Regions from separate parts of the Homo sapiens genome. Here regions 1 and 3 are each linked to region 2. The links come from fine-mapping of genetic effects on gene expression. A gene starts in region 2. Each other region holds a variant in brackets. All regions are shown on one strand. Distances are from middle to middle.

Region 1 (5,196 bases), 61 kb after region 2:
CGTTAGGTAAACAGTGTTATTATTGCCTGTTTACAAGGAAAGCAACTGAGTCTCAAAGAATATATAAGTAAGGAGTAACAGGCTTCTTCATCGCACGAGGATTGGAACTCATATCTGTGTCTGTAGACTCATGAGCCTTCGGTACTGCTTCCCTTTGGCTGGAGCCCAGGAAATGCAAGACTGTCTGGGCGGGAACAGGGGACATGGTAACTGAAATACTCCTGGCTGGGGCCAGGATCCAGGGGCAGCTGGGAGTTTTGCAGTGAGCAGGGCCTGAGCCCACCTGGGGAACAGATATTCCTGTCTAATGACACTGTTATTTTATCCTTGGAAACCCAGTTGAGACATCACTTCTCCTAGGACGCCTTCCCGGCCCCTCCTCATCTCACTGAGAGTTCCTCTCCTGCCTTGTGCCACCCCCAGCCTTGCGCATGCCATGCTTTCAGTGTTGCTTTTGAGACACAGCGTACCTTTCTTACTGTACTGTGATTGCCCAGAGAGCAGAGACGATCTGATTTAGGACCATCCCTGGGAGTAGCACAGTACCTGGCATATGTTACCAAGCCTGGGAGTTAGTCAATAGAAGGTTTCCAGAACTCCGTGCAGAAGGTTGGAGCAAATGTTAAGGAGGTGAACAGCTAAAGCTAGGAGAGGCCTGTCAGACTTCCTGTCAAGGACAGTATCTTGAAGGAGGCACAGAGTTTCGCAGAAAGCAGAAAGGCGGGCTTTCCAATCAGTCAGCACACTGACGAGAGGAACCTGGAGGGGGCCGGTTTGATGAAGTGACTGTGAGCGTTAGTGTGCTGGGCCAGCCACTACGGTGTCCCTGAGCCAAGATGTAATGAGAAACGAGGCCAGCTCCCTTATAGGGAGGGCAAAAGGGCTGAGGGCAGGGCGGGAATCCTGCTAAAGTCCGGGGTTACACTGGAGTTTTGTTATAGTTGCCACTGTGAGCCCAGACAAAGTGTTTTATTTTTTTCGAGACAGAGTTTTCTTCTTGTCACCCAGGCTGGAGTGCAATGGCATGATCTTGGCTCACTGCAACGTCCGCCTCCTGGGCTCAAGTGATTCTCGCCTGCCTCAGCCTCCTGAATAGCTAGGATTACAGGCACCCGCCACCATGCCTGGCTAATTTTTTGTATTTTTAGTAGAGATGAGGTTTCACCATCAGAGTGAGAACCCTCCCCCTGCAAAATTTTTTTAAAAGGCCTGGTGTGGCCGGGTGCGGTGGCTCACGCCTGAAATCCCAGCACTTTGGGAGGCCAGGCGGGTGGATCACGAGGTCAGGAGATCGAGACCATCCTGGTGAACACGGTGAAACCCCGTCTCTACTAAAAATAAAAAAAAATTAGCCGGGCATGGTGGCGGGCACCTGTAGTCCCAGCTACTCGGGAGGCTGAGGCAGGAGAATGGCGTGAACCCAGGAGGCGGAGGTTGCAGTGAGCCGAGATCACGCCACTGCACTCCAGCCTGAGTGACAGAGCGAGACTTCGTCTCAAAAAAAAAAAAAAAAGGCCAGGCGTGATGGGTCACACCTCTAAACCCAGCAATTTGGGAGGCAGAGACAGGATGATCACTTGAACCCAGGAGCTCAGGTTCAGCCTGGGCAACATGGTGAAACCCCATCTCTACAAAAAAATACAAAAGTTGGCATGGTGGCACATACCCGTAGTCCCAGCTACTCAGGAGACTGGGGTGGGAGCCTTGCTTGAGTCCAGGAGGTTGAGGCTGTAGTGGGCTGTGATCACACCACTGCACTCCAGCCTGGGCAACAGTGAGACCCTGTCTTAAAAAGAAAAAAAAAACAGCTGGGCATGGTGTGTACCCCTGAAGTCCCAGCTCCTCAGGAGGCTGAGGCAGGAGGATCATTTGAGCCTCGGAGTTCAAGGAGGCTGCAGTGAGCTAGGAGGACACCACTGCACTCCAGCCTGCATGACAGCAAGACCCTGTCTCTAAAGAAAAACAAGGTGGAGTGGAGAGAACTTGGTTAATTTGTACACGCTCACTTTGCTTGTTTCTTGGATTTTGCTAAACAGGCTCCTCAAGGACTTTGTCCATCCTATTTCTCATATCCCCAGTTGCGGGGCACATAAGAAGGGCTAAGTAAATCTTGGTATGCCCAGTGATCAGCCTGGCCGTGGCAAGGAAAAGGAAAAAAGGGGGGTGGGGGTGGGCTGAGAGTCCTGAGGAGGAAGGAGAGACAGGCTGTGGTCAGGGCTTGGGGAAGACCCTTACATGACAGCATATATGGGCTCCAAACCATCACAGGGAAGTTAGGGAGGGAGAATGCTTTGAAAGAGAGAACGTGCATTTGTGTGGTTCATTACCAAGTTTGTTTGTTTGTTTGTTTGAGACGGAGTCTCGCTCTGTCGCCCAGGCTGGAGTGCAGTGGCGCGATCTCCACTCACTACAAGCTCTGTCTCCCGGGTTCACGCCATTCTCTTGCCTCAGCCTCCTGAGTAGCTGGGACTACAGGCGCCCGTCACCACGCCTGGCTAATTTTTTGTATTTTTAGTAGAGACGGGGTTTCACCATGTTAGCCAGGATGGTCTC[C/A]ATGTCCTGACCTCATGATCTGCCCGCCTTGGCCTCCCAAAGTGCTGGGATTACAGGCGTGAGCCACCGTGCCTGGCCCTATGTTTGTTTGTTTTTTTCTTTTTTTTTTTTGAGATGGAGTCTTGCTCTGTTGCCCAGGCTGGAATGCAACAATGCAATCTTGGCTCACTGAAACCTCCGCTTCCCAGGTTCAAGCGATTCTCCTGCCTCAGCCTCCTGAGTAGCTGGGGTTACAGGCACATGCCACCACGCCTGGCAAATTTGTGTGTGTGTGTGTGTGTGTGTGTTTTTAGTAGAGACGGGGTTTCACCATGTTGGCCAGGCTGGTCTTGAACTCCTGACCTTGTGATCCGCCCGCCTCAGCCTCCCACAGTGCTGGGATTACAGGCGTGAGCCACCGTGCCCAGCCCCATTACCAAGTTGTAAGCATTGCTAGGCACCTGCTGTCCAAGGCAGATTCAGGGACGCAGTGTCTGTGGTCTCTGGGATGGGAATACCACATTCCAGTGCCCTCTGAACACTCCTTAGAAGAGTGAAAGATTGGAAATGACCCAAGGAGCCAACAGGCAGACCAGGGTTAGTCAAAGTTACCGCTTCGTGACCACCCCCTTGACGCCCTTTAATTTCATTACTGCTCTTTGAAGTAAGTACTGTTATCACCCCGTCTTAACAGCTGAAGAAACTGAGGCTTAGAGAAATGAAGTCACTTGCCCAGGGGCATACAGCTCTCAATTAACAGGACGGACCCTTCCCCCAACTGGTCTCTGATTCAAAAGTCTGAGCTCACCACTGTAACGCCATTCTCCTCAGTTGCTAGAATACTTACTCTTTTACTGTTGAAGGGACACCAGTACATTGGGAACATTTATTTAAAATAGCAGTTGAATAGGCCAGGCACGGTGGCTCACGCCTATAATCCCAGCACTTTGGGAGGCCGAGGCGGGCGGATCACAAGGTCAGGAGTTCAAGACCAGCCTGGCCAGCATGGTGAAACCCAGTCTCTACTAAAAATACAAAAATTAGCTGGGCATGGTGGCTCAACGCCTATAATCCCAGCTACTTGGGAGGCTGAGGCAGGAGAATCGCTTGAACCCGGGAGGCAGAGGTTGCAGTGAGCTGAGATTGCGCCACTGCACTCCAGCCTGGGCGATAGCGAGACTCCGTCTTAAAAAAAAAAAAAAAAAAAAGCAGTTGAATAAAGAAGGAGACAAAAATAGTGTTTCCAACTGCGAGTATATGGAGCTGTAAACATTAAGATTAGACGGACATTTTTGAGGGACGAGCTTCAGCTTGGGTTTTTAGTAAGTGTACCTGGTTATTGAGTACCTGTGTGCCAGGATCTGTGCTAATGCTGAGGATACACAGGACACTCCAACAGCTAAGTCCTTGCCTTCAGGGCTTACACCTAAGTGACATGCTGAGTGGGAAACAGAAAATTGCAATGTAGTGTAATCGTATAATACTGGTATAAAATGTTTCAGTGGCCGGGCGCGGTGGCTCACGCCTGTAATCCAGCACTTTGGGAGGCCAAGGCGAGCAGATCACGAGGTCAGGAGATCAAGACCATCCTGGCTAATGCGGTGAAACCCCGTCTCTACTAAAAATACAAAAAAGTTAGCCAGGCATGGTGGCAGGCGCCTGTAATCCCAGCTATTCTGGAGGCTGAGGCAGGAGAATTGCATGAACCTGGGAGGCGGAGCTTGCAGTGAGCCGAGATTGCGCCAGTGCACTCCAGCCTGGGCAACAGAGCGAGACTCCGTCTCAAAAAAAAAAAAAAACTTTGGAAGCAAAAAGCTAATGTCTGGGATGGTTTCGGCAAAGGCCTCTCCCTGGTGAAGAAAGGTGTTCCAGGCAGCAAATACTGCAAAAGCAAAGGTCCAGAGGCTTGAGAGAGTCACCAAGGTGGAGTGGGTCTGGGGAAGTGGTGTGAGATGAAGGATGGGGTGGTCAGACTCCTGAGCCCCTTGAAAGCCCTACTTGGGGACTTTAACTTTATTCTGGAGGCAGTGAAGATGCCTTAAAGGTTCTAAAATAGCCGGGTGCCCTGGCACATGCCTGTGGTCCCAGCTGGTCAGGAGGCGGAGGTGGGGGGTTGCTTGAAGCCCAGGCATTTGAAGCTGCAGTGAGTTAGGATTGTGCCACCGCACTCAGCCTGGGCAACACAGCAAGACCCTGTCGATGGATTGATCAATCAATAGGTAGGTAGATAGGATTCAACACAGTGAGACCTGTCGATCGATCAATAGATGAGATAGAGTGTGTGAGACCCTGTCTATAGATTGATTGATTGATTGATCCAATTAGGCTTTATTACTCTGGGTTGATTCAAGAAAGGAGATTGTCCATGAAGGGGGTGGAACCCAGAAACCGCAGCTGTCCTGCTCCCCCGCCACACACACACCCCACCTCCAGGAGTCAGAGCTGCTGGTCTCCAGGAGGGCAGGGCCTCAAGGACAAGGTGGCCTTAGAAACTGCCACAGTAGTTGCTTCGGAAGGCTGGGTTATGGGTCAGAGACTCGTCTTTGGTCAACTTCAGTTACCTAGAGGAGGAATGCATTTTGTCTCCGGAGCGTATTACCTTTTCCAAACCCCTCAGGGAAACTGGCAAGTGAAGAACAGGTGGGAGGTCTCTCAGTCGACTCC
Region 2 (5,221 bases):
CGTAACTCAAAATAAAGTGTGAAAAAAAAAAATACATGGACCTTGCCTGGATACTGAACTTCTCTAAAGGAAACTATAGCATTTTTTAGATTAGCAGGGAAATTAGAATATGAACTGGGGATGAGATAGCATCAGGAAATCATTATTAATTTTGTTAAGTATGACAATGGCATTATGCATTTGTAAGAAATGTGCATATTTCTAGAATGTGCACTGTAACCTGGAGGGGTGAGATGACATGATGTCCAAGGTCGGCTTGTTTTTTTTTATTTTAATTTAAATTTAATTTTATTTTCTTATTATACTTAAGTTCTAGGGTACATGTGCACAACGTGCAGGCTTGTTACATATGTATACATGTGCCATGTTGGTGTGCTGCACCCATTAACTAGTCATTTACATTAGGAATATCTCCTAATGCTATCCCTCCCCCTCCCCCCGTCCCACAACAGGCCCCAGAGTGTGATGTTCCCCTTCCTGTGTCTAAGTATTCTCATTGTTCAATTCCCACCTATGAATGAGAACATGCAGTGTTTGGTTTTCTGTCCTTGCTATAGTTTGCTGAGAATGATGGTTTCCAGATTCATCCATGTCCTTACAAAGGATATTAACTCATCCTTTTTTATGGCTGCATAGTATTCCATGGTGTATATGTGCCACATTATCTGAGACTTTTTTTTTTTTGAGACAGAGTCTAACTCTCGCCAGGCTGGAGCGCAGTGACACGATCTTGGCTCGCTGCAACCTCTGCCTCCTGAATTCAAGTGATCCTCCTGCATTCAAGTGATCCTCCTGCCTCAGCCTCCCGAGTAGCTGGGACTACAGGCGCGTGCCACCACACCCAGCTAATTTTTGTATTTTTAGTAGAGACAGGGTTTCACCATTTCAGCCAGGATGGTCTTGATCTCTTGACCTGATGATCCGCCCGCCTCAGCCTCCCAAAGTGGTAGGATTATAGGAGTGAGCCACCGCGCCCGGCTGTGCCACATTTTCTTTATCCAGTCTGTCATTGATGGGCATTTGGGTTGGTTCCAAGTCTTTGCTATTGTGAATAGTGGTCGGCTTGTTTTTTTGAGACAGAATCTTGCTCTGTCGCCCAGGCTGGAGTGCGGTGGCATGATCTCGGCTCACTGCAACCTCTGCCTCCAGGGCTCAAGCGATTCTCCTACCTCAGCCTCCCGAGTAACTGAGACGACAGGCACATGCCACCACACTGAGCTAATTTTTGTTTTAGTAGAGATGGGGTTTTACCATGTTGGCCAGGCTGGTCTTGAACTCCTGGCCTCAAGTGATTCGCCCGCCCCAGCCTCCCAAAGTGCTGGGAATCCAGGTGTGAGGCACTCAGCCTGGCCCCCACTCTAGGATCTGATAAGTGAGCACAGTGCTCAGGGCAGTCGCGGGCCGCCAGTCACATCCTGATAGCAACACGGCCAGCTGCTCCACCCTCCCTTCCCAAGTCCCTGTCTTAGGCAGCCCACTCCCATCTCCCCTGGATGCCCCTCTAGCGTCCTGCGCTGAGTGTGAGTCCAGCACTGGAGTCATTACCTGCCCCCATGCCAGCCTGTCTTGCCTGTGTTCTCAGAGAAGACAGTACCGTCCACCCCGGCTCCCAGGCCAGAGACCTCGCTGCTTTTCTCTCCTCCTCTCAGCCAATGAGTCAACAAGTCTCACGGAGTTTACCTTCTGAGTTGCTCCTGAATCCATCCCTTCCTTTTCTTCCCTCCCACTGTCCTAGTCCACCTGCACCTGGACATCTGCAGCAGCCTCCTCGCCGGTCTCCCTGCCTACGCTCTGGCATTCCATCCCCTCTGTCCACCCAACCACTAGAGTGAGCCTTCGCCCAGGACACCCGCTCATGTCACTGCTCAGAGCCCTTACATGCCCTCCCACCGCCCTTAGGGTGGACTCCAAATACCTTATCATCGTTCACCAGGAACCCTCCCCTATTGAGCTGCTCAGCCCTGAAATGTTCTGTTCCACTCACTTGTCAGTTCTCCAAATGCACCATGCTCTCCCTCTTGCCTCCAGCCTTTGCATTCACTCTGCCTGCTATGCTCTTCTCCGAAGCCCTCTGCAGATCTGAGAATCTCTTCCTCCAGGAAGCCTTCCCTGACTACATCCCTGACGCTCAATTAGGTGCCCCTCCGTGTAATGCCGCTAAGCCTGTGTCTCATTTCTCACAGCCCTTTTCATTCTTTTTTTTTTTTTTTTTTTTGATGCAGAGTCTCGCTCTGTCGCCCCAGCTGGAGTGCAATGGTGCGATCTCGGCTCACTGCAACCTCCGCCTCCAGGGTTCAAGCGATTCTCCTGCCTCATCCTCCCGAGCAGCTGGGACTACCACCACCACGTCCACCACCACGCCCGGCTAATTTTTGTACTTTTAGTAGAGATGGGGTTTCGCCATCTGGTCTGGAACTCCTGACCTCAGGTGATGCGCCCGCCTGAGTGCTGCATTACAGGCATGATGTGCCTGGGATTACTGCCAGGAGCCACCGCGCCCGGCCTCACAGCCCTTTTCTTTTCTTTTTTTTTTTTTTGAGACGAAGTTTCACTCTTGTCCCCCAGGCTGGAGTGCAATGGCGCGATCGCGATCTCGGCTCACTGCAAACTCTGCCTCCCGGTACAAGCGATTCTCCCGCCTCAGCCTCCCGTGTAGCTGGGATTACAGGTGCGTGCCTCCACGCCCAGCTAATTTTTGTATTTTTAGTAGAGACGGGGTTTCATCATGTTGGCCAGGCTGGTCTCGAACTCCTGACCTCAGGTGATCCGCCCGCCTCGGCCTCCCAAGGTGCAAGGATTACAGGCGTGGGCCACCGCGCGCGGCTATTAATATTTTTTGAAACAACCTTTTCCTGGGTCTCAATTCCCTCAACCGGGGAGGCCCCCCAGCCAGCACCCGCGTGCATCCGTGGCGGTTCACACCGAGGACGGTGACGGACACCCTAGTCTGCTCCGCCTTCTGCCGGGTCTGGCCCCAGCCGCGGGGCCCCACCTCGGAACCGACAGCGCCGCCGCGGCCCACTTAAGGACGGGAGGGCGGGCCTGGGAAGGCTCGGCCCCGCGTGACGTCAGCGCGCACCGCGGCGTGTGACGCTCTGGTTGCCGCAGAGACGCCCCGCCCCCGCGCGGCGCTGCGGAACCGGAGCTCCGGGCGGCGTCGGCAGCGGCGCGAGAGGCGACGAGGCCCGGGCGGCAGGAGCCGGCGCGGCGACCGCGGCGAGGGCGGCGGGGACGGAGCAGAGCACGACGAAGACGCACAGGCAGCCGGGCCGGGCCGGGCCACGGGGAGAGCGGCCGGCGGGCAGCGGGCGGGAGGCCGGGCGGGCCGCGGGCAGCCACCGAGCCGCGAAGCGACATGGTGCTGCTCAAGGAGTAGTGAGTGTCCGGCGGCCGTGCGGAAGCGGGGAGGAGGGAGGGTGGGGACGGCCGCCGGGGCGACGGCGCGGCGAGGGACGCAGGGCCCGGATGGACGGAGGGGCAGCAGGGACGGAGGGTGCCTGAGGCGGGCCCAGCGGGGATGGAGGGGATCCGGGGCGGGCGGCACGTGAGGCGGGGCCCACGGGGCACGGAGGGGCGGCCGGGGCGTGGAGGGGCGGCCGGGGCGTGGAGGGGCAGCCGGGGCGTTCGGCATCTGAGCCGGGGCCCACGGGGCATGGACGGGCAGCCGGGGCATGGAGGGGCCCACGGGCACGGAGGGACAACCCGGGCGGACGGCTCCTCAGGCGCCCCGGGGGCCTCGGAGGCCCAAGTGGACCCGAGGAGAGGCCGGGGACAGCGAGGGCGAGGCCAGGCCCGAGACGGGGTCAGGGCAGGGAGAGCTGGCCCGGGACTGGGGGAGGCCGAGGGGACGCCGAGCGCTGGGAGTGCTGTGGGGTCGCTCTGCGCGGGCCGAGGGCGCGGGCTCAGCCGGGACTGCAGGCGGCGCTGAGAGGCCCCGCGGCGGCCGAGGAAGAGGCGCACCGGGGCAGGCAGGGCCTCCCGGCGGTGGGGAAAGGTGGAGGGCCGAACAGTTCACACGGAGAGCCGGGTGGATGGGTCAGAGGCTCCGCGATGGAGTTGGGATGGGGATGGGGAGGAGTGGCCGCCTTAGGCATCGGGTGAGGGGTGGTGGTAAGTGGACACAGGAGGAGGACTAGGAAGTCAGGGCCTGGCTGGGGAGACAGGTGAAGGGTCTGAGGACATGCAGAGGGGGCTGAGATGCGGGCCGGAGTAACCGTGGTGCCCAAGCAGCTGGTGCGGAAGAGGAGGCTTTTGGAACAAGCTTGGGATGACTGCTTGGGACGTGGGGAGACTTGGGCGAGGAGGCCAGAAAATGTTGGGTAGGGTCCGAAGTGGAGAAGGCCGGGAAGTTACCGGGGTCGAGGCTGGTCCGGAAAGAGAGTATGTTGGGATGAGTATACCTGCCGTTGGAGATGGGGGAGACCAGGGCAGGGCCAGCTTGTTTCTAGGGGATTCTCAGTCTTGGTGCAAAGAGATGGGGAAATTCTTTGAGGAATTGAGGGGTCCATGGAGCCGTGAACTGAGGAGAGATGGTGGAAGGGGTGGGGAGCTCTTGAGTAGTGAAGAGGGGTGCGTGGGAAACTGGTGACTTCTGGAAGGAGTTGCAGGATGACGGGTTTGCTCCTGAAATCCAGGGGACTGGGGGACAGGTGGAGATGTTTGGTGTGCTAAATCTTTCAAGTACAAGATGAGCCATCGTTGAAGCTCAGGGTTCCAAGTAAGCATCACAGGACATTTTTCTCCCCAAAGAGGAGAGATAGGATGGGTGTGTGTGTGTGTGTGCGTGTGCGTGTGTGCACAGAATTTACAGTGAAACTGCTTTCCTGGAGGGAGGGCCAGAAGCCCCAGGAGTGGGAGATGGTCAAACAGAGAGCAACTTGTGAGGCAGCCAGGCAGGTGTGCAGAGAGCTCTTGCCACTTTGTCAGCGATCGCACTTTGACCATCCCCACCAGGCTGGCTCCTTGGAGGTGCTTAGGACATTTAGGACATAGAGTGGAGTTTGGGTAACAGAGGGAGCTGAGACCCACATGTCATCCCAGCTAAACACCTCATCTGAAGAGCATTATTTTGAGGCCTCATCCCCTCTGTTTCTTGACATCCAGTCTGATGTTAATTCAGCCAGGGCTCGGAGCTTTTCCTGGTGAGGAGGAAGAACTTTACGATGCCAACAGGAGAACGTGGTGCACTTTAGATTTTAATCTTCAGTGTCCAGACTGACAG
Region 3 (5,221 bases), 42 kb after region 2:
ACACAGTGAGACCCTGTCTCAAAAAAAAAAAAAAAAAAAGGCCAGGTGCGATGGCTCACGCCTGTAATCCCAGCACTTTGGGAGGCCAAGGCGGGCGGATCATGAGGTCAGGACATGGAGACCATCCTGGCTAACATGGTGAAACCCCGTCTCTACTAAAAACACAAAAAATTAGCCGGGCGTGTTGGTGGGCACCTATAGTCTCAGCTACTCGGGAGGCTGAGGCAGGAGAATGGCGTGAACCCAGGAGGCAGAGCTTGCAGTGAGCCAAGATCGTGCCACTGCACACCAGCCTGGGTGACTGAGCGAGACTCCGTCTCAAAAAAAAAAAAAAAAAGAAAAAAGAAAAAAACTGAGGCTTAGAGAGCATTGCAGTAACTTACTCAAGGTCATACAATTAGTGATGGAGTCAGAATACAATCCAGGCCAGGTGCAGTGGCTCATTCCTGTAATCCCAGCACTTTGGGAGGCCATGGCGGGAGGACTACTTAAGTCCAGGGGTTCGAGACTAGCCTGGGCAATACAATGAGACCCTGTCCCCACACACACCGAAAAAATAAAAAATCAGCCAGGTGGCTGGGTGCAGTGGCTCACGCCTGTAATCCCAGCACTTTGGGAGGCTGAGGCAGGCAGATCGTGAGGTTAGGAGATTGAGATCATCCTGACCAACATGGTGAAACCCCGTCCCTATTAAAATACAAAAAAAAATTAGCCAGGCATGGTGGCGTGTGCCTATAGTCCCAGCTACTGGGGAGGCTGAGGCAGGGGAATTGCTTGAACCCGGGAGGCAGAGATTGCAGTGAGCCGAGATCACACCACTGCCATCCAGCCTGGCGACAGAGAGAGAGACTGTGTCTCAAAAAAAAAAAAAAAAAAAGCCAGGCGTGGTGGCACATGCCTGTAGTCCCAGCTTCTTGGGATGCTGAGGCAGGAGGATCACTTGAGCCAGGGAGTCGAGGCTGTAGTGAGCCATGATTGCGCCACTGCACTCCATCCTGGGCAACAGAGCCAGACCCTGTCTCAAACAAAACAATACAGTCTAGGGAGTTTCATTCTAGCAGCTATGCTCTTAGGTGCTCAAAATTTGTTGAACATTATAAAGAACAAAAGTTGAGCAGAAAACTAATGGATAGTGAAGAAATACTTATTGACATTCTTCACATAGAATGGAGTTTTCAAATCAGAACTGATTTTAGAGAGATGACGTCTACAGTATCCCCAGTGATGTCTGCCTGGAAGGTGCCAGTGACAGGGACCACTTGGTGCTTCCACAGAAGCCCCCATCCTGTTTTCCAGCAGCCTTGCACATCTGTGGATCTGAGACCTGCACCTGCACTTTCCACCTCTGCATCCTTGTGCCTAGTTCTGACACCACATTGTGCCCACCTTTAAACAGGTCAGGAAAGGGAAGTTCTGTTACTCTGCCGGGAACTCCTCTCCCGGAGAGCCACAGGATTTTCTCCCTCATTTCTCTCAGGTTTCATCTCAAACCTCACATACAAGCTTCTGTAACTACCTAAAATAGCACTTACCCACAGTCATTCTGTATCCGAGCAGCCCACAGTCCTAGCTGACATAGATGAATGTTTGTTCTCTGCCCATCCTGCCCCAGAATATAAGCTCCTTGAGGAGAGAACTGGTCTGTTTAGTTCACAGCTAAATATTCCCAGCCCTCTGGAAGTCCCTAGCACTAAAGAGATGCCTCACTGAGGCTGGGTGCGGTGGCTCACGCCTGTAATCCAAGCACTTCAGGAGGCCAAGGCAGGCAGATCATCTGAGGTCAGGAGTTCAAGATCAGCCTGGCCAAAATGGTGAAACCCCGTCTCCCCTAAAAATACAAAAATTAGCTGGGCGTGATGGTGCATACCTGCAATCCCAGCTACTTGGGAGGCTGAAGCAGGACAATCGCTTGAATCCAGGAGGCAGAGGTTGCAGTAAGCCAACTTTGCGCCACTGCACTCCAGCCTGGGCGACAGAGCAAGACTCCTCACACACACAAAAAAAGATGTTTCGGCCAGGCGCGGTGGCTCACGCCTGTAATCCCAGCACTTTGGGAGGCCGAGGCGGGTGGATCATGAGGTCAGGAGATCGAGACCATCCTGGCTAACAAGGTGAAACCCCGTCTCTACTAAAAATACAAAAAATTAGCCGGGCGCGGTGGCGGGCGCCTGTAGTCCCAGCTACTCGGGAGGCTGAGGCAGGAGAATGGCGTGAACCCGGGAAGCGGAGCTTGCAGTGAGCCGAGATTGCGCCACTGCAGTCCGCAGTCCGGCCTGGGCGGCAGAGCGAGACTCCGTCTCAAAAAAAAAAAGATGTTTCATAAGTATTTGTTGAATGAATAAATGAATGAAACGGGCCAAGTGTGGTGGCTCACACCTATGCTGTAATCCCAGCACTTTGGGAGGTTGAGGCAGAGGATCGTGTGAGGCCAGGAGCCCAAGACCAGCCTGGTCAACATAGGAAGACCCCCCCACACACACCTCTTTACCAAAAAAAAAAAAAAAAAAAAGGTGCTTCAAACACCGTGACACGAGAGAACTAGAAATCATGGATGGTGAGACCAGTGACACAGATCTGGAAATGTATGGCTTCGAGTCCATATGCAGAATTCTTCCGTCCTTCCAGTGTCTTGCTTTTTACACAAAATATGCCCCACCCCACCTATGGGCAGGACTGAGAAGGCAGGAGTTCCATCAGCAGCAGGAGCCTTCCATTTGTCCTGCTTTTT[T/C]TGTTCCAGATGAGACAAAAGGACCCAGTGAAAGGAATGACAGCAGATGACTAAAGCCGCCTTTCCCCTCTGCACTGTACGTACCAAATTTCTCACTGTGCGTGTCACAGACGCTAAAATCAGTTTGGGTTTCAAGGCCTCAGCAGCTCACTATGGAGTCAGAAAACCTATTCCTCCTTCCCTCTAGTAATGATGGTTGCCACGCTCGATAGCTCTCCACTTCCACTAGGAGATTATGGCCCTTGGGACATTTCAGGGACATTTTCCAAAGAACCACCCAGATAGAGACAATGGACAGGGAGGGGGTGGTGGATATAGAAGGGGAGTTCATCTGCTGCGAATCACTCCTCCTGTCTGCCAGCTTGATCCATCTCAAGTTGCAGCTGTCATGTTGGGCACTCCCTGGCCTTCCCACGCCAGCGCCAGCTCCCAAAAGCTGCCATTACCTGCCCTTCCCCCTTGGAAAACTTGCTGGCCAGACAGCTTTTGTTAGCACCCACTGTTGTCTGGTGCTTCATTTCCTTCTTTATACCCCCGATCCCATACTAAGCTGCCCTCATCAGAGGTGGCATCTTTCAGATGCTGGGAGGGTGTTTCTGCCCAGGTCACAGGGCCAGATTGGGGGCCCCTTGTTTCATGTTGTCACTTTTCCCCAAGCCCCCTCCTTCCGTTAACTCTCGGTGCTGGTTTCCCAGTGCCCTGTACACCACCCGAGTCATGGGATTCCAGCAGCTCAAAGCAGTCTTAATCACTGAATGAAAAACCTGGCTCTGCTCCCAATTAGCCTCAGAGAGAAAATTATTTTTACAAATAAAAGCTGGCCTCTAACCCTACGGGCAAGGAGGGCCAGGGTCTCACCAGGAGTGACGGCAGGCCCTGCTTACTCTCCCTGCCCCATGTTCCCAAAGCAGCCTCGGGGAGGCTGGAGGGTGGAATGAGGCGGACTGCTGTGATGCCAGCTTCTCAGTCACTGCTCTGGGCCTCAGTGCTCTCCCCCACTCCCTTCCCCACCCACCCACTGGCTTCCCTCCTCCTCTTGAAATTATCCATTCAGGACGATTTACAGTGTTTCTGTTTTCTCCTCTTGCTTCCTTAATACTTTCATTTTTCTTCTAGTTTTGCAAGACAGTGGTCAACAGGAAGACCCAGCAGCTCCACCCTCCCAAGTGACAGGCCATTTTCGGACGCAGCCGTTCTGTGCCCATTCTTCAGGCAACTTTCGATTCCTTACTGTAGCTAATTCTAGATGCCCTTCAGTATTGTGAACAAATAGACCGTCTGGTGTCACAGAGCCCGCGTGTGCAGGAGCCTGCTCCTCCGAGATACGTGGCGTGTAGGTTGCTGTAGTTACAGCGCCTCCGTCTCTCTCCATTGTGTTCCGATCCATTTCTGTGTGTTCCCCCAACCTTTATTTCCAAGTGACATTTTCAGTCTTTCAAATAGCTGCCTTTTGTGATGTGGTGATTTAAATGATTTAAGTTCATTTGTTCTCAACCTTGGGGTAAACTGAGGTATTTTGCTTCCTGGGAAGATCTTCGCAATTTTGAGTGCTCCTGTGGGGAGCGGGGATGAGCTAAAGATACAATGTTTCCCTGCCCCGCACCGCTTCCACAAAATAGCAATGTGGTTTTGCAGCTCTGACTTCTGCTCCCAGTAACCCATCGTTAGGGCACTCTAGCACTATGGAGGTACCCAAGGCTCAGCCAGTCTCTATTTAAGAAAATTTAACAAATACGAGTAACCCTGTCCCAATCACTGAATCTCTAGTTACTACTCTTAGAAACACCTGTGGCTTCTTGGCCCTCCTGTTGCCCGCTCTGAATCTCTCTGCAGTCTACAAAATCGCCCCAGTCAACTCTCCACTTGGAGGGAATTGTCCAGTGTGGCCCCTAGAATTGAGTCACCCCCTAGATACCAACTGTCTGACCCCGAGGAGCTCTGTAAGTCCCTGCTCCTCCTCTTCCCTTTGGGGCTGGTGCTGCCACTCAGCAATAATCCTCTTTTCTCTGTGCTTTCTTAGGTCCCTGTCCTCTGTCTTTGAGGCTGGTTAGGAAGCAAGAGTCCTGATCTTTCATGCTGCACAATATGAGCATGCAAAAAGCTTTTTCCAGCAGAACATGTTCCCTCGTCTCCAGTTGCCGGAAAGGAATTTGGGGATCAAGAACTTAGCTCGTCCTACCCCCATGTTGAGTTCTGCCCTGGAAAACCCAAAGCAAGTAGTGATCATAGTACAGAACCCGACCAAAGTAGGCTGGTGAGGAAGTCCAGGCTCCAGGGGAACAGACGCTGCCCAGTGTTCATAGCTTCCTGCAACTTGACAGAGCCTGAGTTTGCCTCTTAGTGGGAGAATGAGAGAGAGCTGTAGTGTCACCTGACATTCCCCAAACCTTGTGAAGCACGTTGGCCTAAGTGTGCCGTGATCCCAGCCCACACTAGCCTGGGTGCATCTGCTAATGGGAGACCAAATCTTTGTCCGGGAAGCAAGAAGTGGGT

What was found.
Region 1: its variant is fine-mapped to the expression of PITPNA in gastroesophageal junction (GTEx, PIP 0.93).
Region 3: its variant is fine-mapped to the expression of PITPNA in whole blood (INTERVAL, PIP above 0.99). The same link has a PIP of 0.9 or more in esophagus mucosa.

Annotation. Positions count from the first base shown.
Region 1 is chr17:1,499,503-1,504,698 of GRCh38, reverse strand. The region is part of intron 7 of INPP5K (inositol polyphosphate-5-phosphatase K); the gene reads left to right. Among named protein-coding and RNA genes, the nearest start is that of MYO1C, 9.4 kb to the right of the region's middle. The variant C/A (reference allele first, on the strand shown) is at 2,554.
Region 2 is chr17:1,560,695-1,565,915 of GRCh38, reverse strand. PITPNA (phosphatidylinositol transfer protein alpha) reads left to right here and starts at 3,124. Exons shown (of 12, transcript NM_006224.4): 1 at 3,124-3,375. The coding sequence starts at 3,356. RefSeq lists silencers at 2,952-3,231, 3,302-3,351, 3,832-3,961 and enhancers at 2,804-3,303, 4,072-4,171, 5,086-5,221.
Region 3 is chr17:1,519,162-1,524,382 of GRCh38, reverse strand. It overlaps PITPNA (phosphatidylinositol transfer protein alpha), which reads left to right. Exons shown (of 12, transcript NM_006224.4): 11 at 2,738-2,804; 12 at 3,845-5,221. The coding sequence ends at 2,782. Among named protein-coding and RNA genes, the nearest start is that of PITPNA-AS1, 4.9 kb to the right of the region's middle. The variant T/C (reference allele first, on the strand shown) is at 2,729.